Linked DNA regions of Homo sapiens: regions 1 and 3 are each linked to region 2. Evidence: fine-mapped QTL for protein levels in blood plasma. A gene starts in region 2. Each other region holds a variant in brackets. All regions are shown on one strand. Distances are from middle to middle.

Region 1 (8,283 bases), 310 kb before region 2:
ATTATTTTGGAGATATATCCAGAAGTGGAATTGCTGAATCATATGGTAATTCTATGTTTAACTTTTTGAGGAAACACCATGCTGGTTTCCATAGTGGATACACCATTCTACATTCCCACCAGCAATGCACAAGGATTTCAATTTTTTCACATCATTACCAACACTTGTTATTTTCTTTTTTTTTTTTAAATAGCCATCCTAATGTATATGAAATGGTACCTTCATATCATTTCAATTTACAATTTTCTAATAATTACTGGTGTTGAGTATATTTTCATGGTTCACTGACCATCTGTATAACTTCTTTGGAGAAATATCTATTCAAATCCTTTGCCTAGTTTTAAATTGGGTTGTCTTTTGTTGTTGTTGAATTTCAGGTTTCTTTACATATTCTGGATATTAACTTCTTATCAGACATGTGATTTGCAAATATTTTCTTCCATTCACTGGTTTGTGTTTTCATTCTGTTGATAATGACATTTGAGGCACAAACGTTTTTAATTTTAATAAAGTCTGATTTATTAATTTTTTGTTTTGTTGCCTGTGTTTTTGGTGTCATAGCCAATAAATCATTACCAATCCAATGTCATGTAGCTTTTCCCCTGTGTTTTCTTCTAACTTTTGTAAGGTAAGTGTCTAACTTTGTTCTTTCATATGTAGATATCCAAATTTCCAATACCATTTGTTGAAGAAACTTTCCTTTCCCCCATTGAATGATCCTGGCACTTTTCTAGAAAATCTTTTGATCATATATTCTAGGACTTATTTCTGGGGACTCTATTTTATTCCACTGGTCTATATGTCTGTCTTTGTTCCAATACCACATTATTTTTATTATTATAGCTTTGTAGTAAGTTTTTAAATCAGGAAATATGAGACCTCCAACTTTGTTCTTCTTTTTCAAGATTGTCTTGACTATTCAGGGTTTCTTGAGATACCATATAAAAATTTTAGAATGGGTTTTTCTATTTCCGCAAAAAAAAATACTTGGGATATTTATAGGGATGGCATTGAATGTATAGGTTGCTTTGGGAAGCATTAATATCTTTTTTTTTTTTTTTTGAGACAGAGTCTCGCTCTTTTGCCCAGGGTGGAGTGCAGTGGCGCAATGTTGGCTCACTGCAACCTCCACTTCCCTGCATCCCAGGTTCAAGAGATTCTTTTGCCTCAGCCTCCTGAATAGCTGGGATTACAGGCACACACCACCATACACGGTGAATTTTTGTATTATTAGTAGAGATGGGGTTTCACCATGTTGGCCAGGCTGGTCTCGAGCTCCTAACCTCAGGTAATCCTCCTGCCATGGCCTCCCAAAAGTGTTGGGATTACAGGCATGTGCAAGTATGTTTTTCGTACAATGACTTATTTTCTTCTGGGTGGATACCTAGTAGTGGGATTGCTGGATTAAATGGTAGATCTACTTTTAGTTCTTTAAGGAATCTCCACATTGTTTTCCATAGTGCTTGTACTAGTTTACCTTCCCACGAACAGTATAAAAGTGTTCCCTTTTCACCACATCCACACCAACATCTATTATTTTTTTATTTTTTTGATTATGGCCATTCTTGCAGGAGGGAGGTGGTGTGGCATTGTGGTTTTGATTTGCATTTCCCTGATAATTAGTTGAGCATTTTCCCATATGCATGTTGACCATTTGTATATCTTCTTTTGAGAATTGGCTATCCATGTCCTTAGACTATTTTTTAATTGGAATTTTTGATTTGTTTTGTTTTTGCTGATTTGTTTGAGTTCTTTGTAGATTCTGGATATTAGTCCTTTGTTGGATATGTAGATTGTGAAGATTTTCTCCCATTCTGTGGGCTGTCTGTTAACTCTGTTGATTATTTATTTTGCTGTGCAGAAACTTTTTAGTTTAATCGAGTCCCATCTATTTATCTTCGTTTTTGTTGCATTTGCTTTTGGGTTCTTGGTCATGAAGTCTTTGTCTAAGCGAATGTCTAGAAGGGTTTTGCTGATGTTATCTTCTGGTATGGTTTCAGGTCTTATATTTGAGTCTTTGATCCATCTTGGGTTGATTTTTCTATAAAGTAAGAGAGGATGATCCAGTTTCATTCTCCTACATGTGGCTTGCCAGTTATCCCAGTACCATTTGTTGAATAGAGTGTCCTTTCCCCACTTCATGTTTTTGTTTGCTTTGTCGAAGATCAGTTGGCTGTAAGTATTTAGCTTTGTTTCTGGGTTCTGTATTATGTTCCATTGGGCTATGTGCCTATTTTTATACCAGTACTATGCTGTTTTGGTGACTATGGCCTTATAATATAGTTTGAAGTTGGGTAATGTGATACCTCTCGATTTGTTCCTTTGCTTAGTCTTGCTTCAGGTATGCAGGCTCTTTTTTGGTTCCATATGAATTTTAGGATTGCTTCTTCTAGTTCTGTGAAGAATGATGGTATTTTGATGGGAACTGCATTGAATTTGTATATTGCTTTTGGCAGTATAGTCATTTTCACAATATTGATTCTACTCATCCATGGGATGTGTTTCCATTTGTTTGCGTCGTCCATGATTTCTTTCAGCAGAGTTTTTTAGTTTTCCTTGTAGAGATCTTTCACCTCCTTGGTTAGGCATATTCCTAAGTATTTTCTTTTCTTTTTGCAACTATTGGGAAAGGGGTTGACTTCTTGCTTGATTCTCAGCTTGGTCGCTGTTGGTGTGTAGTAGAGCTACTGATTTGTGTACATTAACTTTGTATCCTGAAACTTTGCTGAATTCATTGACCAGCTCTAGGAGCTTTTTGGATGAGTCTTTAGGGTTTTCTAGGTATACAATCATGTCATCAGCAAACAGTGACAGTTTGACTTCCTCTTTACTGATTTGGATGGCCTTTATTTCTTTCTGTTGTCTGACTGCTCTGGTTAGGACTTACAGTACTATTTTGAATGGAAGTGGTGAAAGTGGGCATCCTTGTCTTGCTTCATTTCTCAGGGGCAATTCTTTCAACTTTTTCCCATTCAGTATAATGTTGGCTGTGGGTTTGTCATAGATGGCTTTTATTACCTTAAGATAAGTCCCTTCTATGCTAATTTTGCTGACTGTTTTCATCATAAAGGGATGCTGGATTTTGTCAAATGTCTTTTCTGTGTCTATGGAATGATCATGTGATTTTTGTTTTTAATTCTGCTTATGTGATGTATCACATTTATTGACTTACATATGTTAAATCATCCCTGCATCCCTGGTATGAAACCCACTTGATGATGGCGGGTTATCTTTTTGATATGCTGTTGGACTCGGCTCACTAGTATTTTGTTGTGCATTTTTGCATCTTTATTCGTCAGGTATATTGGTCTGTAGTTTCCTTTTTTTGTCACATCCTCCCCTGGTTTTGGTGTTAGGGTGATACTGGCTTCATAGAATGATTTAGGGAGGATTCCCTATTTCTCTATCTTTTAGAATAGTTGTCAATAAGATTGGTATCAATACTTATTTGAATGTCTGATAGAATTCAGCTGTAAATCCATCTGGTCCTGGACTTTTTGTTGTTGGCAATTTTTAAATTACCATTTCAATCTTGTTGCTTGTTATTGGTCTGTTCAGAGATTCTATATCTTCCTGGATTAATCTAGGAAGATTGTATATTTCCAGGAGTTTATCCATCTCCTCTAGGTTTTCTAGTTTATGAGCATCCAGGTGTTCACAGTAGCCTCGAATAATCTTCTGTATTTCTGTGGTATCAGTTGTAATATCTCCTGTTTCATTTCTAATCCAGTTTATGTGGATCTTCAATCTTCTTTTCTTGGTTAATCTCGCTAATGGTCCATCAATTTTGTTCATCTTTTCAAAGAACCATCTTTTTGTTTCATTTATCTTTTGTATTTTTTTGTTTCAATTTCATTTAGTTCTGCTCTGATCTTTGTTATTTCTTTTCTTCCGCTGGGTTTGAGTTTGGATTGTTCTTGTTTCTCCAGTTCCATGAGATATGACCTTAGATTGTCTATTTGTGCTTTCAGACTTTTTGATGAAGGCGTTTAATGCTATAAACTACACTTTTAGCACCGCTTTTGCTGTATCCCAGAGTTTTGATACGTTGTGTCACTATTATCATTCAGTTCAAAGAATTTTTTAAATTTCCATCTTGATTTTATTGTTGACCCAGTGATCATTCAGGAGCAGGTTACTTAATTTCCATGTATTTGCATGGTTTTGAGGCTTCCTTCTGGAGTTGATATCAAATTTTATTCCACCGTGGTCTGAGTATTTGATATAATTTTGATTTTCTTAAATTTACTGAGACTTGTTTTGTGGCCTATCATATGGTCTATCTTGGAGAATGTTCCATGTGCTGATGAATAGAATGTATATTTTGCAGTTGTTGGATAGAATGTTCTGTAAATATCTGTTAAGTCAATTTGTTCTAGGGTATATTTTAAATCCATAGTTTCTTTGTTTACTTTATGTCTTGATAACCTGTCTAGTGCTGTCAGTGGAGTATTGAAGTCCCCCACTATTATTGTGTTGTCATCAATTTCATTTCTTAGGTCTAGTGGTAATTGTTTTATAAATTCGGGAGCTCCAGCGTTAGGTGCATA[T/C]ATATTTAGAACTGTGATATTTTCCTGTTGGAATAGTCCTTTTATCATTATATAATGCCCCTCTTTGTCTTTTTAAACTGCCATTGCTTTAAAGTTTGTTTTGTCTGATGTAAGAATAGCTACTCCTGCTCGCTTTTGGTGTCCCCTTTACCTTAAGTTTATATGAGTTCTTATGTGTTAGGTGAGTCTCCTGAAGACAGTAGAAACTTGGTTGGTGAATTCTTACCCATTCTGCCAATCTGTATTTTTAAAGTGAAGCATTTAGGCTGTTTATATTCAATGTTAGTATTACTTTTTTTTTATTGAGATGGAGTCTTGCTCTGTTGCCCAGGTTGGAGTGCAGTGGTGTAATCTTGGCTCACTGCCAACCTCTGCCACCCGGGTTCAAACAATTCTCGTGCCTCAGCCTCCCAAGTAGCTGGGACTACAGGCACGTGCCACCATACCAGGCTAATTTTTTTTGTATTTTTATTAGAGACGGGGGTTTCACCATGTTGGCCAGGCTGATCTTGAACTCTTGACTTCAGGTGATCTGCCTGCCTCGGCCTCCCAAAGTTCTGGGATTACAGGCATGAGCCTCAATGTTAGTATTGAGATGTGAGGTACTATTCTATTCATCATGTTAGTCATTGCCTGAATACCTTGGTGGTTTTTTTTTTTTTCAGCTAGTCCTGCCTCCTATCTGCCATCTTAATCCCCTCTGATATCTTAATGATATTGAGTCTTCCAATTGTGAACATGGGATGGGATGGGATGGGATATCTTTCCAATTTTGGTGTTTTTTTTCATTGTTTTTGTTTTATAGGTCCTGTGAGATTTATGCTTTAAGGAGGTTCTATTTTGGTGTATTTCGAGGAATTCTTTCAAGATTTAGAGCTCCTTTTAGCAGTTCTTGTAGTGCTGGCCTGGTATTGGTGAATTTGCTCAGCATTTGTTTGTCTGGAAAAGACTATCTTTCCTTCATTTATGAAGCTTAGTTTCGCTGGATACAGAATTCTTGGCTGATAGTTGTTTTGTTTAAGGAGGCTAAAAACAGGACCCCAATCTTTTCTAGCTTGAATGGTTTCTGCTGAGAAATCTGTTAATCTGATAGGTTTTCCTTTATAGGTTATGTGATGCTTTTGCCTCACAGCCCTTAAGATTCTTTCCTTTGTCTTGACTTTAGATAACCTGATGTGCCTAGGTGTGCCTAGGTGATGATCTTTTTGTGATTAATTTCTCAGGTGTTCTTTGAACTTCTTGTATTTGGATGTCTAGATCTCTAGCAAGGCTGGGGAAGTTTTCCTCAATTATTCCCTCAAATATGTTTTTCAAACTTTTATATTTCTCTTCTTCTTTGGGAACACCAATTATTCTTAATTTTGGATATTTAAGATAGTCCCAAACTTCTTTAAGGTTTCATTCTTTTTAAAAAATTCTTTTCTCTTCATCTTTGATGGATTGGGTTAATTCAAAAGCCTTGTCTTTGAGCTCTGAAGTTTTTCTTCTGCTTGTTCCATTCTATTGCTGAGACTTTCCAGTGCATTTTGCATTTCTCTAAGTGTGTCCTTGATTTCCAGAAGTTGTGATTGTGTTTTATTTATGCCACCTACTTCACTGAATAATTTTCCTTTCATATTCTGTATCATATTTTTTATTTCTTTAGGTTGGACTTTACGTTTCTCTGGTGCCTCCTAGATTAGCTTAATAATCAACCTTCTGATTTCTTTTTCTGGCAATTCAGAGATTTTGTCTTGGTTTGGGTCCATTGCTGGTGAGCTGATATGATCTTTTGGGTTGGAGGGGGCGGTTTAAAGAATCTCGTTTTGTTATATTACCAGAATTGTTTTTCTGGTTCCTTTTCATTTGGGTAGACTATGTCAGAGGGAAGAGCTAGGATTCAAGGGGTGCTATTCAGATTCTTTTGTCCCACGGGGTGCTCCATTGATGTAGTGCTAACCCCCTTCCCCTAGGGATGTGGCTTCCTGAGAGCTGAACTGTAGTGATTGTTTTGCTCTTCTGGGTCTAGCCACCCAGCAGAGCTCCTGGGCTCCAGGCTGGTACTGGGGAGTGTCTGCAAAGAGTCCTGTGATGTGATCCATCTTCAGGTCTTGCAGCCATGGATACCAGCACCTGCTCCACTGGAGGTAGCAGGGGAGTGAAGTGGACTCTGTGAGGGTCCTTGCTTGTGTTTTTGTTCAGTGCACTGGTTTTGTGTAGGTTGGCCTCCAGCCAGGAGGTAGGCATTTCAAGAGTGCATCAGTTGTGGTCCTATAGGGAGGAGGCAAACTTGCCCTAGGGATACCTGGTTAAGCATTCAGGTTTCTCAGGTGGTGGGCAGGGTCAAAGAGCTCCCAAGAGATTATGACTTTTGTCTTTGGCTACCAGGGCAGGTATAGAAAGACCACCAGGTGGGGGCAGGGATAGGCATGTCTGAACTCAGCCTCTCTTTGGGCTGGGCTTCCTGCAGCTGCTGTGGGGCTGGGCTTCCTGCAGCTGCTGTGGAGAATGGGGGTGAGTTTCCTAATCCAATGGAGTTATGCTCCCAGGGGGATTATGGCTGTCTCTGCCGAGTCATACAGGTTGCCAGGGAAGTGGGGGAAAGCCGGCAGTCACAGTCCTCATCCCACTCCCATGCAGCTCACAGTCCTAAAGTCCAGTCTCACTCCTACTGTGCCCCCTCAACAGCACTGAGTTTATTTCCAGGCAGCTGGTGACCAGGGCTGAGAACTTGCCCCAGACCACCAGCCTGCCCGCTGAGAAAGCAAGCAGATTTACAGGTTTTTGGCATCTCAGGGAGCCTGCAGCGGTGATCCTGTCCTTAAAAGGGTCTGTGGATTATCTCGGCTTTTCTGGTATGTTCCTGTGGTAGTTCTTGGAGCAAAAGTTAATGATGTTAGTCTGCACACACTGCTCTCTCTGTCCAGGTGGGGGCTGCAAGCTAGTCCTGCCTCCTATCCGCCATCTTAATCCCCCTGATATCTTAACGATATTGAGTCTTCCAATTGTGACCATGGGATGGGATGTCTTTCCGATTTTGGGGGTTTTAAAAATTATTTTTCAGCAATATTTTGCAGTTTTCACTGAACAAGTGTTTCACCTCTTTGGTTAAGTTTATTCCTAAGTATTTTATTCTTTTTGATGCAATTGTAAATGAATTGTTTTCTTAATTTTCTTTTCTAATCTTTTCTTTTCTAATCGTTCATTGTTAAAGCAACTAATTTTTCTGTGTTGATTTTGTGTCCTGCAACTTTGTTGAATTAGTTTATTAGTTCTAACAGTTTCCTTGTGAAATCTTTAGTATTTTCTGCACATAAGATCATGTTATTTTAGAAAAAAATAATTTTATTTTTCTCTTTTCAATTTGGATAGCTTTCATTTCTCCCTTTTCTTTTCTTCTTTCTTTCTTGCTTTCTCTCTTTCTTGCTCTTTCTTTCTTTCTTTTCTCTCTTTCTTTCTTTCTTTTCTTTCTTTCTTTCTTTTCTTTCTTTCTTTCTTTCTTTCTTTCTTTCTTTCTTTCTTTCTTTCTTTCTTTCTTTCTTTCTTTCTTCCTTCCTTCCTTCCTTCCTTCCTTCCTTCCTTCCTTCCTTTCTTTTCTTTCTTTCTCTCTCTCTCTCTCTCTCTCTCTTTCTTTCTTTCTTTCTCTCTTTCTTCCTTGCTTAATTGCTCTGGCTGGGACTTTCAATACTATGTTAAATAAAAGTGATGAGAAAGGGCACCATTGTCTTGTTGCTGATCTTAGAAGAAAAGCTTT
Region 2 (8,283 bases):
TAAGACCCACATTGTGCAAAGGCAGCAAGAACGGATATGTCGACCGTTACTCATAAATCTCCTAAACGTGGCAGCAAGGAGGGTTAATTATCCCCCCCGCCCCCACTTCCTGCCACTCTCTGCTTTCTCCAATGTGTTAGCCCATTACACGGATCGCTGACTTTCTAGAAATATTCCCTGGCTTTGCGGGGATGTTCTTTTCAATAAATGGCATCCAATTTGCTAACGGTCCCTGGAATCTCAATTTCCTCAAAACATTTTTCATCTGAGCCCAGTTCATAGGAAGGTTTCGTCCTTCCTCGTTTTTCGGCATAAGGGAATAGGCAGAGCCTGCTTTTCTTTTTCTTTTTTTTTCTTTTCTGTGTCATTATTTTTCATAAACTGAAAGCCTTTGCTGAAGAGTCTGAAATTTGGGAAAATTCCAGCTCATCTGTCAGATATTTCTAGAGTTACGTAAAATGTAATGAGATTTGTATAGTTTAGAACAGGGAAGAGAAAATAAGCTAATGTGTCATATGTTCTATGAGACAAAGACTACATGATAATCAGAAAAACAGCCCCAAATTTAGTTGGCCTGATTCAAAGCTCTCATTCTTTTATCAATTCATGCATAAACCAGTAACATTCACTTTCTTCTCTTAGAATAATGGCACGGCCACATTTGGGCTAAATCATAATTGCTACAGATTATAGCCACATTTTCAAAGAAATTATAAAAAGTGTATTATTTTCCAAATGCAAGACACTTACGTTTTACTTGCTCTGTTTTGCCTCCTTCTAGCAAAAGAAAGAACAACAACGAAAAGATGTATTTCATGCCTCCCATTTTCCACTTTTTTCTCATTTGGACCACTGCAAAAGGTGACAGAACCTTCAAGCTGTTGGGAAGAAAGCAGAAAAAAGACTTAACACAGATCTTCTGGAAATGATAGAGGTCACTGATGCTCAGGCTTCTAACCTGCTAGAATAAAAAAAAAATGTCCTAGAATTTACATAAGTGTAAGTATTGTCTGCCTGCACAAGATAAAGGACTTGCCTCTCCTGTCTTGCAAGGCTTGTGGGTGAAAATTCAAGTGAATGAGGGTGCATTCCTATCCAAAGCTGAGGCTAAGTCCTTACAGGCAAGTTATAGGAAAATGAAAATAAATTTTGAAATCTTCCTTTCTAAGGGAATTAAAGTTGATTTCTCAAGAGATTTTTTTGGGAGAAAAGGGAAACTTTAGCTTGCAAAAACGGTTATTTTAGCAAACAAGGTAAAAGTAACAAGCATGAGACCAAGCAATTTCTGAAATGAAAGTTAACTAATCTTAGCTTCAAGACTACTTTTAATCCTTTTGGAATGAAGTACAAATTGATCAGTTTCTCCTGTGTCCTCTATGAGATCTACAAGGATCTTTGGTTTGGCAACTAATATTGCAAAAGATAGATGTAATTAGCAAATGGATGCAATTAAACACCTGAAAAGTTTTACTGCTTAAAATGGTTCCAACATATTCCTCCCCCAAGAAGTCCATTGTAAAATGGAAATTTTAAATGGGCCATTTTTAGGGGAAATTGGGCAAATTAAATAGATAATTTGTTCACCTTGCACCACCATGCAAAAGACCATTAAAACAACTACAGTTCTTCAAAACATGAGATTGGCATTCCCAGTATAAGGGGTAGAAATCTTAAACCTTTTGAACCTTGGAACACAGAAAGTTTGCTGTAGCTCACATCTAGTCACGGATCATTTCCACAGATGTTAGAGTTTGCAAAATTCCTCCAATGGGTGATCTGAAAATATTGAAATGTTCTAAAAACACCAGATTCAATCTGAATGGGAAATGAACTCATTGATCTTTCCAGAAAGTCCAACCTAAATATTGCACATAAAGAACTTGAAGGAATGCAAAACGATCATTTTGGAGAGTTGAATATCTTTGGGCTCTGAAGTAGATGCTACAGCTCCTACTTAAATGCTATGAAGTTGCCTGGGTCATTCAAAATCCACTGTTTCAATTATGAATGCATAACCAAGGAAGAACTGATGATAGAGTAATCTGTGCTATCAAACAAGATTTGCAGCACCGTCTGCCTTCCTTCTTTACCTCCTCCCTGCTCCTTAAAGAACCAAATTCTCTCAGGACATGTTCCTACCCATCTAAAGACCTGAGTTCTGATGTCTTGGTCCCCTCTGTGAGTTTGTGGCCCACTTACAATCACTCAGAATGTTACTGTCCCTTGAGGGCTACCACGTTTATTCGAAACAAATCATTTTCATTAACAATTTAACACAGCTACCCACCTCAGTGAGGTTCTTCCTGAGCCTATTCTAATAAGTTTATTCCCCAAGCCTCCAAAAGAGAAAGATTTTTAACCACTGAAATCCAATTTATCACATTCATATATGGATTTCAACGGGTGTTTCTGAAACCATGGTTTTAGGGTCTCCCCATGCGAGAATCAACAGGGCTGCTTTTCTTGTATAATGGTTGGGCGATTCGGTGAACTGTAGCATTGCTTCATAACTCAAGTTGGCAAGAAAACAGCTCATAGATTTTTTTGCCTTTCTTAGGTCCCAACTAATATTATGAGCAAATAAAAAAGTTGGTAACTAGAGAGCAATTAATCTCCTTTGGCGTTCCTGTCATCTGTGTGGCCTCCCAGGCTGTGATGGAGAACATCAGAAAATGAATCGCTTTATAAATATTCACTTTTGATTTACAAGATCCTGAAGTCCTGCCTTTGTATTCTGTGCAGAAATATGAACCAAGAAGAGTTCCCTCCCCAGATCTCCTCACTGTTCAATTTCTCTTTATCTCTTCAGCTTTTTCTTTTAGGGAAGGGGGTGGTTCAAAACATGTGTTGGGACTGCAGCAGTAAACACTAGCAAGCATTGCTCAGCGAACTTAGCCGACTCTTATTCTTGCAAAGAGCCAAACTGTCCTTAATTTTTCAAATTATACTTTGACCCAGTTAACTGGAGTTATTTCTGCATTAACTCTCTGTCTGCTTCACACAGGCTGTTGTGCCATTGAACTTGCACTGGCTCTTTTACAGGTTACTTAGACATGTAGCCATTGACATGCTTCAGGGGATCCAGGACCCAACAAGAAAGCAACAACAACAACAAAAAAACAAAACCCTGCAACTAACACAGGTAGTGGAGGTGGGATGGGAGAGTTCCTGTGTTTTACAAGAGAAAGAGAAATGTATCAAGTACCAAAAGAAAGGTATTTATTAAGGTGCTTCCATGAAACAAGCATTCACATTGTTCATCTGCGTTAAGCAAAGGGACCAACTGCTCCTTGCCCAGCTGTGACTGCAAGGCAATCTGGGCCATCAAGTGTCAGGAGCCCACTTTCAGAACAGGTCTCCTGGGTAGAACAGAAGCAAAGAGACATCCCCACAGGAAGGCTAAGGGATGAACACATGTCAGCCAGTTCTTCACGCCCCACAGTGTCTCTTTAATCCTCCTGAGAGGCTTGACTGACCTTGTAATCTCACATTGACTATCATCTGTGGGACAGCCCCTAGGGTAGCAATTTTCTTTCCGACAAACAATAAGAAAGACACTGGAGTCCCAGGCCCTTGTCCATCAGCTGAAATCCTCTCCCCACTCTACCACCCAGCAAGAAAAGTTCAGTTAACTGGTGGTGTGTTGCCACTGAAAATGGCAGTTTTAACCCAGGGTATCTCTTGTTGGAGGAAATGCTTTCATTGCTGCTTATGACTGACAAACAATGCCTCGCATTTGGCTTGCAAAACACCTTTCTATCATTTCATTTCATTCCACACAACTCCACCTTCAAAATGGGCACTGGGGGGACCCAGAGAACTCAAATAACTTTAGTGGCAGGGCTGGGAGGGACTGGAAAGCAGGCTTTCCGGGCCCTATGTTCTGGCAATATACCACGTTGCTTCCAGAGCCTAGTGTCTCAAATTCTGACCCCCGTAGTCAGGGACAAAAAATGAGGCAGATGGCCAGAGGATAGGATAGGGAGCCTTTCGCCCATCTACCCTGCTACATTAACTTTACCATGTATTCATCAGCAAAATGAGAAAACAGGCTCAGGAATACAGGCAGTGATTAAGGGGACTGCAGAGTCCCTTGGGTAGCTCAGGGTGGAGTACCTAAGTGACCTCTCAAAGCGCCAGAGCATAAAGAAATGCAGGCCGAGTGGGGAGGGACGAGCTGTGAGTTCGAATTCAGAGACCCCCAACTTGCTTTGGTCAGAAGCCTTGGGCCCCACCTCCATCCAGGTTGCTAACTGCTGGAGCACAGAACAGGTTGGGGTGGCAGGGGAATTTGGGGCACCCTGGGGAAACTTCCAGGGACGGCTCCGGCCAAGAGAAGGCAACCCACCTGTGCAAAGGCTGGAAAAGGAGGTGAGGGAAGCGGGCGCCGGGCACTGCTCACTAACCTGGGCACTGGCCTTCTCCGTCTGCCACGCGTGCACGCGCTCCGAGCTCCCCGGGGCGCTCTCGTCCGAGGTCTGGGGCTGGCAGGTTGTGGCGAGAGCTAGAGTGCGCGCGAGGGGGGAGGGGGAACTCAAAAGTGGGTGGGAGGAAAAACATCACCGCCCTCACACCACGAGGGAGCAGCGGCTTGCTCGGCTCCCGGGGGCAGAGCCAAGGCGCGGGCGCGGCGGCCCGGGGCCACCTGCCCGCCCTCCCGCTCGCTCCCCACTTGGCCCGAGAAGCCGGCCGCTCGGCGCTGGCGGGAAGTCCGCAAGCACGCAGCCGCTGCAAGCACGCACACTTTCTCCACCCCGGCACAATGGCTTTATTTCTGCTCCCCCGGCCCGAAAGTTTAAAAATCGGGAGAAAGTGTGAGACTCAGCCGGCTACTTTCCCATCACACAGCGCCCCCACTGCAGCCCCCACTCCTTTGGCTAGGCGAGCGTTGGGGTCTTAAAGGGACCGCACAGCTCCTCCGGTCCCTCCTCCCCCTCTGCACTGGATGCACCTAGGAGCTCCCCACCACTCGCGCACGCCCTGAAGATACCGACTACCCTCTGACTCCCCTGCCTGGAAGCCCACACCCGCTCTCCTCCGGCACCAAGGCCTTTCCGAGGTGTGCACCTGGTCTGGTACTGAGCTGGTGCCCTGGACACAGAATGAACCCTCCTCGCAAATCACGCCCTAGCATGCTGCTTATCATTTCACGGCGTTTCCCATATCCACACTGTGGCTAACAGAGTGACAAAGCTTTGGTTTGGTGTCCTTAAAGGCGGGGTGGAGATGGGTGTGTGTAGGGTCAGGGATTAGAAATCCACTTTCTCTTACAAACTGGGCTCCCAAGCCTCATGGAAAGGGCCTGTTCTAACTGTTAAGTGTCTTGAAGAAAACTTGGTGCCACACACTATACCCACCATTTTTTTTTTAAATGAGTCCCTAAGCTTCTAAGTTGGGCCAAGAGCTCAACCTGGAAATCACAGTAGCACTGCTGATGCCTTGGTGGGCCTGCCTACTCCAAATTTGTGTTTATTCAACAAGTGATAGTTGCAAAGAATTGTCAGAAACTTCTAGGGTCCAGGAAAGTGCTGCCTCGACAGACAAAATTTTAAGCCCCTAAATTTGGAGAAGAACCGCAGAGCTTTTTTCTAGATGAACTAGATAAATATCTATATTCCTAACATCTGTATAGTACTTTATGGCTTACGGAGTGTTTTCACATACATCAACATTACTTTTTAAACCCTCAAAACCAACCGAACTACCTGAGGTCTCAAGTGTTAGAGTTGGTGGGGAACTTCTGAACCATTCAGCTTAACTTCATCATTTCACAGAAGAGGAAACTGAATTGGGGGAAGAGGATGATGTATCTAAGGTCACACAGCTAGTAAATGACAAATTTGAGATTCCAATCCAGATTCCCTGACTTTCAACCCACTACTCTCTGGTTGTTATCTCCAGTCTGTAGATGAGGAAATTGATGTTCAGAGAAACTGTGGCTTGTCAAAAAAACAAACAAACAAACAAACAAACCACTTATCAGGAACAGAAAACAAAGAAAAATTAAAACAAGAATAATTGTCCCTGAACGTTACCTCCTTTTGCTTTTTCAGAAGTGTTAATAGTATCCAGCTAGCCCCTGCATTGCTGGTGATGTTTATTTCACTGTTAACAAAGGAAAGGGGGCCCTTTCTGTAATGTTGCCTTCAGGGCCCAAAATGTCTAGCTCCGTCCTGCTGCCTGGGTAGCCATACACTGCCACATGCATTCAATTTGTGCTGTTGTATATCGGTTTGAACTTGCTGATTTGTTGCCTTATAACTGTTCTCATGCCGTTTAATGCAGTGATGTTTTGTCTTACTAGATTGTGAGTTCTTCAAGGGCAAGGACTGGTTGTTCAATTTCTCTTGTGCGTGCATTACCCAACTCCCATCATTACTTCCAACATGCTTACAGAGTATTCTGGAAAATGAGTTTCAAGGGATAGTCTGAGACAAACATAAATTCTAGCATTTAAAATAAATAGACTCACTGGGATTTAAAAGTTCATCTATTTGGCTACAACCACTCACTCCCTTGCTTGGTGTAGAATCCTAATTACTGCATAACAAACCATCCGAAAACCTAGTGGCTTAAAGCAAGCAATTATTCTCAATTGGTTCTATTGAGTTGATTCTATTGAACTTGCTTAAGATCTCTTATGCAGTTGCAGGCAACTGTATATGGGGCTGCTGGAATTCTCTGACAGGTTTTTCATTAGTGTAAATGTTAGTCATCCTTGTATTTTGTATTAGTTCCAATCTTGATTTCTGAATTGAGAACTCCCATTTGGGTGAGTCCTAATCTAGACATCCTACCAGGTCTTATAGAAACTTAAGTGATGATTACCTTCATGCTTTATTTTCTCTGTTTATTAAATAGGGATGAGAGCATAATCTCATACTCATTTTTTAAAAAGTTTTATTTTAAGATAATGGTAGATTTACATGCAGTTGTAAGAAATAATTCAGAAAGATCTCAAATACCCTTCACCTAGTTTTCCCCAATGATAACATCATTCATAAATATAGTACAATGTCACAACAGGACACTGACATTGGTACAATCCATTCATCTTACTCTGATTTCACCAGTTTTATATGCACTCATTTGCCTGTGTATATAATTCTATGCAATTTTATCGCATGTGTATATTCATGTGACCACCACCACAGTAAAAATATAAAACAGCGCCATTACCACAAGGATACCCTGTATTACACTTTAATAGTCACACCCATCTTTTCCCTTCCTCCTCTCCCTACTCCCTGTCAACTACTAAACTAAATTGTCCTACATCTCTATAATTTTGTCATTTAAGAATGTTACGTGGAATCATACGGTATGCAACCTTTTGAGATAGTCTCTTCTCTCTTCTCCCCCAACCCTGATATAATTCTCTGGAGACCCATTCAAGTTGTTCCTGGTATCAATAGTTTGTTCCTTTTCATTGCTGAGTGGTATTCCATGGTAGGGATATATCACAATTTGTTTAAACCATTCATCTATTGGAGGGTTGAGTCTAGATTTCGGTTACAACTGCTATGAACATTTGTCTACAGGTATTTGAATAAGCGTAAGTGTTCATTTCTCTGGGATAAATACCCAACAATGTAGTTCCTGGGTTGTATGGTAAATGCATGTTTAGTTTTGTAAGGACTGTCATACTGTTTTTAGAGCAACTGTACTATTTTATATTCCCACCAGAAATGTGTGAGAGATCCAGTTTATCTGCATTCTTGCCAGCATTTTTTGTTGTCATTATTTTTTATTTTAGCCATTCTGGTAGGTATATAGTGATATCTCATTGTGGTTTTAACTTGCATTTCCCTAAAACCTAATGATATCTACCATCTTTTCATTGTTTATTTGACACCTGTATATCTTATCACAAATATTTTATCCCAGTCTGTAGCTTTTCTTTTCATCCTCTTCCCTTGAACTTCCACAAAACAAAATTTTTTAATGTTTTATGTCCAATGTATCAAATTTCTGTCATATAGGTCATGTTTTGGCATTAAGTTTAAGAACCCTTTACCTAGCTCTAGATCCTGAATATTTTCTTCTATATTTTTGTTTTAAAAGTGTTATAAAGTTTTACATTTAATTATGATCTATTTTGAGTTAATTTTTATAAAAGGTATAAGGTTTAGGTTGATGTTCATATTTTGCCTATATATTTTTGTCCAATTGCTCCAGTATCATTTGTTGAAAAAGCTATCTTTCTTTCATTGAATTGCTTTTACACCTTGATCAAACATTGGTTGGTCATATTGTGTGAATCTATTTCTGGCTTCTCTATTT
Region 3 (8,283 bases), 230 kb before region 2:
GCACTCCTCACTTCCCAGGCAGGGCAGGTTGCGCAGAGGCGCTCCTCACTTTCCAGACAGTGGGCAGCTGGGCAGAGGCGCTCCTCACTTCCCAGATGGGGTGGCAGCCGGTCAGAGATGCTCCTCAATTCCCAGACAGGGTGGAAGCTGGGCAGAGGTGCTCCTCACTTCCCAGACAGTGGGAAGCTGGGCAGCAGGGCAGCAGAGTTCCTCACATCCCAGATGGTGGGGCGGCCGGGCAGAGGCGCTCCTCACTTCCCAGACGGGGCATCCAGGCAGAGGCGCTCCTCACTTCCCAGATGGTTGGCAGCTGGGCAGAGGTGCTCTTCAATTCCCAGAGGGTGTGGCGGGCGGGCACAGGCGCTCCTCACTCCCCAGTCAGCTGGGCGGCTGGGCAGAGGTGCTCCTCACTTCCCAGAAGAGGTGGCTGGGCAGAGACACTACTCACTTCGCAGTCAGTTGGGTGGCGGGGCAGAGGCGCTCCTCACTTCCCAGATGGGGTGGTGGCTGGGCAGAGATGCTCTTCACTTGCTAGATGGGGCAGTGGCCGGGCAGAGGCTCTCCTCACTTCCCAGACACTGGGCAGCTGGGCAGAGGCGCTTCTCACTTCCTGCACGGTGGGCAGCTGGGCAGAGATGCTCCTCACATCCCAGATGGGGCGGCGGCGGGCAGAGGCCCTCCTCACATTCCAGATGGGGCGGCCGCCGGGAAGAGGGGCACCTCACTTCCTAGATGGGGTGGCAGCCCGGCAGAGGCACTACTCACTTCCCAGACGGGGCTGCAGCTGGGCAGAAACGCTCCTCACTTCCCAGATGGTGGGGCGGCTGGGCAGAGGTTCTTCTCACTTCCCAGACAGTGTGGGGGGGAGGGGAAGGGCAGAGGCGCTCCCTCACATCCCAGATGGTGGGGCGGCTGGGCAGAGGCACTCCTCTCTTCAATTTGGGGTGGAGAGTTCTGTAGATGTCTATTAGGTCCCCTTGGCCCAGAGCTGAGTTCAAGTCCTGAATATCCTTGTTAATTTTCCATCTCATTGATCCGTCTAATATTGAGAGTAGGGTGTTACAGTCTCCCACTATTATTGTGTGGGAGTCTAAGTCTCTCTGTAGGTCTCTAAGAACTTGTTTTTATGAATCTGGGTGCTCCTATATTGGGTGCATATATATTTATGATAGTTAGCTCTTCTTGTTGAATTGATATCTTTAGCATTATGTAATGCCCTTCTTTGTCTTTTTTTTATCTTTATTGGTTTAAACTCTGTTTTATCAGAGACTAGGATTGCAACCTCTGCATTTTTTTTTTCACTTTCCATTTGCTTGGTAAATTTTTTTCTCCATCCCTTTATTTTGAGCCTATGTGTTTCTTTGCACATGAGATGGGACTCCTGAATACAGCACACCAATGGGTCTTCACTCTTTATCCAATTTGCCAGTCTGTGTCTTTTAATTGGGACATTTAGCCCATTTATATTTAAGGTTCATGTTATGTGGAATTTGATCCCATCATCCTGATGCTAGCTGGTTATTTTGCACACTAGTTGATGCAGTTTCTTCATAGTGTCATTGGTCTTTATATTTTGGTGTGTTTTTGCAGTGGCTGGTACCAGGTTTTCCTTTCCATATTTAGTGATTCCTTCAGGAGCTCTTGCCAGGTAGGCCTGGTGGTGACAAAATCCCTCAGCATTTGCTTGTCTGTAAAGGATTTTATTTCTCCTTCATTTATGAAGCTTAGTTTGGCTGGTTATGAAATTCCAGGTTGAAAATTCTTTTCTTTAAGAATGTTGAATATTGGCCCCCACTCTCTTCTGGCTTATAGGGTTTTTGATGAGAGGTCCACTGTTAGTCTGATGGGATTCCCTTTGTAAATGACTTGGCCTTTCTCTCTGGCTGCCCTTAACATTTTTTCCTTCATTTCAACTTGGAGAATCTGATAATTATGTTTCTTTGGGTTGATCTTCTCACGGAGTATCTTAGTGGTGTTCTCTGTATTTCTTGAATTTGAATGTTGGTCTGTCTTGCTAGGTTGGGGAAGTTCTCCTGGATAATATCCTGAAGTGTGATTTCCAACTTGGTTCCATTCTCCCTGTCTCTTTCAGGTACTCCAATCAATCATAAGTTTGGTGTTTTTACACTGTCCCATATTTCTCAGAGTTTTAGTTCATTCCTTTTCATTCTTTTTTCTCTAATCTTGTCTGAATGCCTTATTTCAGCAAGATGGTCTTGAAACTCCAATTTTCTTCCGCTTGGTCAGTTTGGCTATTGATATTTGTGTATGCTTCACGAAGTTCTCATGCTGTGTTTTTCAGCTCCATCAAGCCATTTATGTTTCCCTCTAAACTGGTTAATCTAGTTAGCAGCTCCTATAACCTTTTATCAAGGTTCTGAGCTTCTTTGCATTGGATTAGAACATGCTCCTTTAGCTCAGTGGAGTTTGTTATTACACACCTTCTGAAGCCTACTTCTTTCAATTCATCCATCTCACCCTCCATCCAGTTCTGCGTGATTATTTGGAGAAGAGGCACTCTGGTCTTTTGGGTTTTCAGCATTTTTTCGTTTATTCTTTCTCATCTTCATGAGTTTGTCTAGTTTTGATCTTTGAGGCTGTTGACCCTTGGTTGGGATTTTTGTGGGGACTTTTTTTGTTTATGCTGTTGTTGCTTTCTGCTTGTTTGTTTGTTCGTTTTTCTTTAAATGGTCAGGTCCCTCTTCTGTAGGGCTGCTGCAGTTTGCTGGGGGTTCACTTCAGGCCTTCTTCATCTGGTTCGCTGTCATGCCTGAAGATGCCATTTGAGGAGGCTGGAGAACAGCAAAGATGGGTGCCTTCTCCTTCCTCCGGGATCTCTGACCTTGAGGGGCACCAACCTGATGCCAGTAGGAACACCACTGTATAGGGTGTCTGACAGCTCCTGTTGAAGGATCTCCCCCAATTGAATGGCACTGGGTGCAGGACCCATTTAATGAAGCACTTTGACTATCTCATGGTGCAGGGGGTGTGCCATGTTAGGGGGAAACCCACTAGTCTGGGCTGCCCAGATTCCTCAGAACTAGCAGGAGGAAAGACTAAGTCTGCTGGTCTGTGGAGACTATGGCCATCCTCTCCCCCTAGGGTCTCAGGCCCAGGGAGATCAGAGTTCTGTCCCTAAGCCCCTAGCTGGAGTTGTTGGAGTTCCTGCAGGGAGGCCCCACCCAGTGAGGAAGGATGAGTCAGGGTCAGGCCTGAGGAAGCATTCTGGTGGCAATCTGCCACAGCCAGTGTGTTGGGCTGCAGGGAATATCTCTTGGGACCAAGCAGTCCAGCCTCCTTGGCTTTTGCAGGGGAAAAGCACGGCCTGGAGCCATAGAGATGGCTGCCACCCTTCCCCTGCCCTGGAAGCTTAGTGTGTTAGGCAGCTAGCAGTCCCAGCGTTGGCTGCCAACCCTCCCCCAAGGAGCTCAGATGGTTTAGACAGCAGGCAGCCACAGCTGTGGTGATGCTGCCCCCCACCAAGGAACTCAGCAGGCTTAGGCAGATTGTAGCTGAGTGGCTGTTGAGAATCTGCGCAGCTCCATGGTTGGGACCCTAGGCCCTGGTGGCATGCGCTCACGAGTGGGATCTTCTGATCTGTGGGTTGCACAGTTCTGTGGAAAAAGCACGGTTTCCCAGACTGGGTAGCATGCTCTCTCACCGCCTCCCTTGGCGGGGGACTGGGGGCTCCCCTGCCCCGTGTGGCTCTCAGGTGGGCTGCCACACCACACTGGTCTTCTTTCCTCTCTGTGGGTCACACGAGCCACCTAGTCAGGCCTGATGACAGAACCTGGATACCTAGGTTGCCAGTGGGGAATTTGCACACTGTTTCGGTTCTTTTCAATGGGAGCCTACAATCGCTGCTTCTTCTAGTTGGCCATCTTGGCCCCGCACCTCCACCCCCCAACCCCCATTTGTTAGTTTTTTCATTCAACATCATGTTTCTACATCAATCCATGTTGCTGTGCATACACTTAATCTGTTATTATAAGCATTGCATAATACTTCATGGCATGCCTCTACCACATTTTACCTATCCACTGGCTCAGTCAAGTGCTCCCCACTGGGATTCTGCTACCTTCGGCCACCACAAATAGCACTCTCATGAACATCCTCACACATGTCTCCCCATGGTCTTATGTGAGGATTTTCCTGGATAATATACTCAAGAGCAGCATTGTTGGGTCATAGGATATATGTATATTAATATTTTAATGTGACTACATTAGTTATATGACCCTCAAGCCAGTGCAGCCTTTCTTGGCCACTGTTTCTTCAATTGCAACTCCCATGTAACATTTAAAATTCCCCCTTTCTTTTATATAGGCATACTATTTTTTAGCTTTTATACCACATTTTTACTCTGCCTTTTCTATGTTTAGCTACACAAATACTTACAACTTTGTTACAGTTACCTACAGTATTCAATATGACGATATGCTGTACAGGTTTGTAGCCTAGGAGTAATAGTTTATACCATAGAGCTTAGGTGTGTAGTAGGATATACCATCCAGGGTTGTGTAAGTACACTCTATGATGTT[C/A]ACAGAAAAACTAAATCACCTAATGACACATTTCTCTGAACATATCCCTGTCATTAAGTGATGCATGACTGTATGACTGTGTATTTTATATGTATATAGGTGTTTAAAGCATTAATGTTTATAAAACTGCTTTACAACCAACAACACAAATGAACAAAAATCCCAAAAGAAATATGATCAGACATGATTTTAGAAAGATTGCTCTGGATATTCCATGAAAATGCCTTATAAAGAGACAAGATGACTTAGGAAGCTACTGCAGGAGTTCTGATGAGAGAAAATGGTGGATTGGACTAGGGAGGTGGCAATGAGGATGGAGAGAAGTGAATGAATTAAGAAAAAGAAGATTTACAAAATAGAATTCACAGACTTGATGAGAGGATTGGCTGTGGGGAATGAAGGAGAGGAGGGCATCAATAATAACTCCAAGGTTTCTGCCTTGGATAGAATATCTGTGTCATTCACTAAGATGAGAAGCACAGGAGAAGCAAGTTGGGAAGAGCTGATGTGATATGCTCAATTTTGAACATGTTGATTGCCACATGCCTATGAGATAACCAAATAGGAAGGGATGTCAGAATAGAGGCCGGGGCTCAAGAAGTCCCAGTTTTACTGCTTAGTGACTATGATAACCTGGACAAGTCATATTGAGAACTGGAGCCTCAGTTTCCTCATCTGTAAAATGGAGTAACAAAACATTCATCTTTATTAGTGTTATTAAAGTTATCAAATGTAAAAGTTTATGTGAGAAGGTGCTTTGTAAATTCTAAAATCCATATAAGTGGTAATAATAAATATTTTCAAGGGGTATGAAATGGATGTGGGGAGAAAGGGAGATTTTCCAGGGACATTCAGGAATTCTTTGGCCTGCAGAGAGACTACAAAGCTCTGTCTGATTCATGGTGGCATCATCAGGCACATTCCAATCTCTGGGAAACTTATTCCTACAAAGAAATTATTTCCAGTGACTTGGTGTCATGGCAATTTAGCTGACTTGGGCCAGGATTGGAAGAATTGGAGGGAGGCTTCTAAATCCTGGCAGCAGGAAATTGGGATGAGGCCAATGCAAATGTGGCAGGCTGGGAAACATTTTTGCAGACAGAAAGCATTTTTTAAGATTTTTATTGTGGTAAAATATACATAATATAAAATTTACCATTGTAATTATTTTAAAGTGTACAGTTCAGCGGCATTAAGTACATACACATTGTTATGCAACCATCACTGCCATCCATCACCAGAACATTTTCATCATCCCAAATTGAATCTCTGTACCTGTCAAACAATAACTCCCCACTTTCCCCTACTCTTGACTCCTGACAGCCATAATTCTACTTTCTGTCTCTATGAGTTTGACTATTCTCAGTACCTCATATAAATGGAATCATATATTTGTGCCATTTCATTTGGCTTATTTCACTTAGCATAATGTTTTCAAGGTTCACCCATGTTGTAGCATGTATCAGGATTTCATTCCACAGAATTGCCATTCAACCCAGCAATCCCATCATTGGGTATATACCCAAAGGAATATAAATCATTCTGTCAAAAAGATACATGCACACATATGTTCATCACAGCACTATTCACAATAGCAAAGACATGGAATCAACCTAGGTACCCATCAGTGGTGGACTGGATAAAGAAAATATGGCATATATATACCATGGAGTACTATGCAGCCATAGAAAACAATGGAGTTATGTCCTTTGCAGGAACTGGAGGCCATAATCCTAAGCAAACCAACACAGGAACAGAAAACCAAATACCACATGTTCTCACTTATGAGTGGGTGCTAAACACTGAGTACACATGGACACAAAGAAGAGAATAATAGACACTAGGGCCTACTTGAGGGTGGAGGGTGGGAGGAGGGTGAGGATCTATAAACTACCTACCGGGTACTATGCTCCCTACCTGGGTGACAAAATAATACGTACACCAAACACCTGTGACACACAATTTACCCAGATAACAAACCTTCACATGTACCCTGGAACCTAAAAGTTTAAAAATAAATAAATAAATATGGTTTTATTATACACAGTTAATCAACATGGCAATATTTAGTGATTTATAGAAGGTGAGTTAAATCTTACCACTTTATTAGCTCATGGGAGGCCCTTTTACTTTTCCATACAATTCTGTTGCTGACTTTTTATTAATGAATTATTTGAATTTAATCGTAGGAGTGCTATTTTAACATATTCCTCTGGCCCTCAACACAATAAAGAAAAGTATTACCACAAAAAAGAATCTCATGCCTTATTAAGGCTAAACAATATTCCCTTGTATGTATGTACCACTGTTTATTATCTATTTGTCGATTGATGGACATTTGAGTTATTTGTACCTTTTAGCTATTGTGAATAATGCTCCTATGAGTAATGATGTACAGATATCTATTAAAGTCTCTGCTTTCAATTCTTTTGGATATGTACCTAGAAATGGAGTTGCTCGATCATATAATAATTATATGTTTCATTTTTTTTGAGGAACCACTGTACTGTTTTCCACAGTGGCTACACCATTTTACACTCCCACCAACATGTGCAAGGGTTCCACTTTCTCTATATCCTTCCCAACACTTGTTATCATCTGGATTTTTGTTTGTTTGTTTTAATAATTATAATAGCTAAATTAATGGGTATGAGGTGATGTCTCATTTTGGTTTTGATCTGCATTTCCCTAATGATTAGTGATGTTGAGCATTTTTTTCATGTGTTTTTTGGCCATCTGTATATCTTTTTTGGAGAAATGCCAATTCAAATTATTTGCCCATTTTTGAACTGGGTTGCTTGTTTCTTAGTTGTTGAATTGTAGGAGTTCCTTATATATCCTGGATACTAAACCCTTATCAGATATATGATTTACAAATATTTTCTTTCATTCCATGGAATGACTTTTCACTGTGTTAATAGTGTCCTTTGATTCACAAAATTTTTAGTTTTGAGGAAGTTCAATTTCTTTCTTTTTTCTTTTGTTGTCTGTGCTTTTGATGTATACACAAGAAGTCACTGCAAAATCCCATGTCATGAAACTTTTCCTCTATATTTTCTTCTGAGTTGTATAATTTTAGCTCTTATGTTTAGATCTTTAATCCATTTTAAGTTAATGTTTATATGCAGTATAAAATAAGCTCCATCTTTATTCTTTTGCATGTGAATATCCAGTTTTCCCACCACCAGTTGTTAAAGAGACTGTCCTTTTCCCATTGAGTGGTCTTGGCACCCTTGTTGAAATCATTTGACCATAGATGCATGAGTTTGTTTTTGGCCTCTTGATTCTATTCCAATGAATATGTCCATATGTCTGTCTTTATGCCAGTACCATACTGTTTTGATTACTATAGCTCTGTAGTAAACTTTGAAATCAGAAAGTCTGAGTCTTCCAATGTTGTTCCTCTTTTTCAAGGTTGTTTTGGCTATTCTAGGTCTCTAGAGATTCTACATAAATTTTAGGAGTGATTTTTCTATTTCTGTAAAATTATTGAGTTGCATTGAACCTGTAGATTGCTTTGGGAGAAAGAATTTTTGAGTCATTTTCAAAAGTGATGTTTCAGTTAAATCAACACTTGTGTTTCATTTGTTGCTTATAAAAAGCACACTCATGAGTAAAGAATTTAGGAAAGGCAAAATGATAATAATAATAATAAGTATCTGGAGAACAATGTTCTGGATGGAGAGTCAGAGATTTTGGGCTATGCAATATGGTTATAGACACAGCCTGTGTCCTTTTGCAA

Direction of the effects. Alleles are on the strand shown, and positions count from the first base shown. The strength of an association depends on the size of the effect and on how common the allele is.
For the plasma level of the protein whose gene starts at base 4,480 in region 2, allele C in region 1 goes with a lower level than allele T (moderate association).
As copies of A replace C in region 3, the plasma level of the protein whose gene starts at base 4,480 in region 2 goes up (weak association).

What was found. PIP is the chance, under the fine-mapping model, that this variant and not a neighbour inherited with it causes the effect. The UK Biobank Pharma Proteomics Project read protein levels with antibody pairs (Olink). The fine-mapping took linkage between variants from a reference panel, not from the people measured, so its PIPs are less certain.
Region 1: its variant is fine-mapped to the plasma level of the CHRDL1 protein (UK Biobank, PIP above 0.99).
Region 3: its variant is fine-mapped to the plasma level of the CHRDL1 protein (UK Biobank, PIP 0.95).

The regions. Positions count from the first base shown.
Region 1 is chrX:110,484,987-110,493,269 of GRCh38, forward strand. No RefSeq gene overlaps it. Among named protein-coding and RNA genes, the nearest start is that of CRIPTO3, 32 kb to the right of the region's middle. The variant T/C (reference allele first, on the strand shown) is at 4,551.
Region 2 is chrX:110,791,338-110,799,620 of GRCh38, forward strand. It overlaps CHRDL1 (chordin like 1), which reads right to left and starts at 4,480. Exons shown (of 12, transcript NM_001143981.2): 1 at 4,407-4,480; 2 at 751-878. The coding sequence starts at 844.
Region 3 is chrX:110,557,969-110,566,251 of GRCh38, forward strand. No RefSeq gene overlaps it. Among named protein-coding and RNA genes, the nearest start is that of CRIPTO3, 41 kb to the left of the region's middle. The variant C/A (reference allele first, on the strand shown) is at 4,542.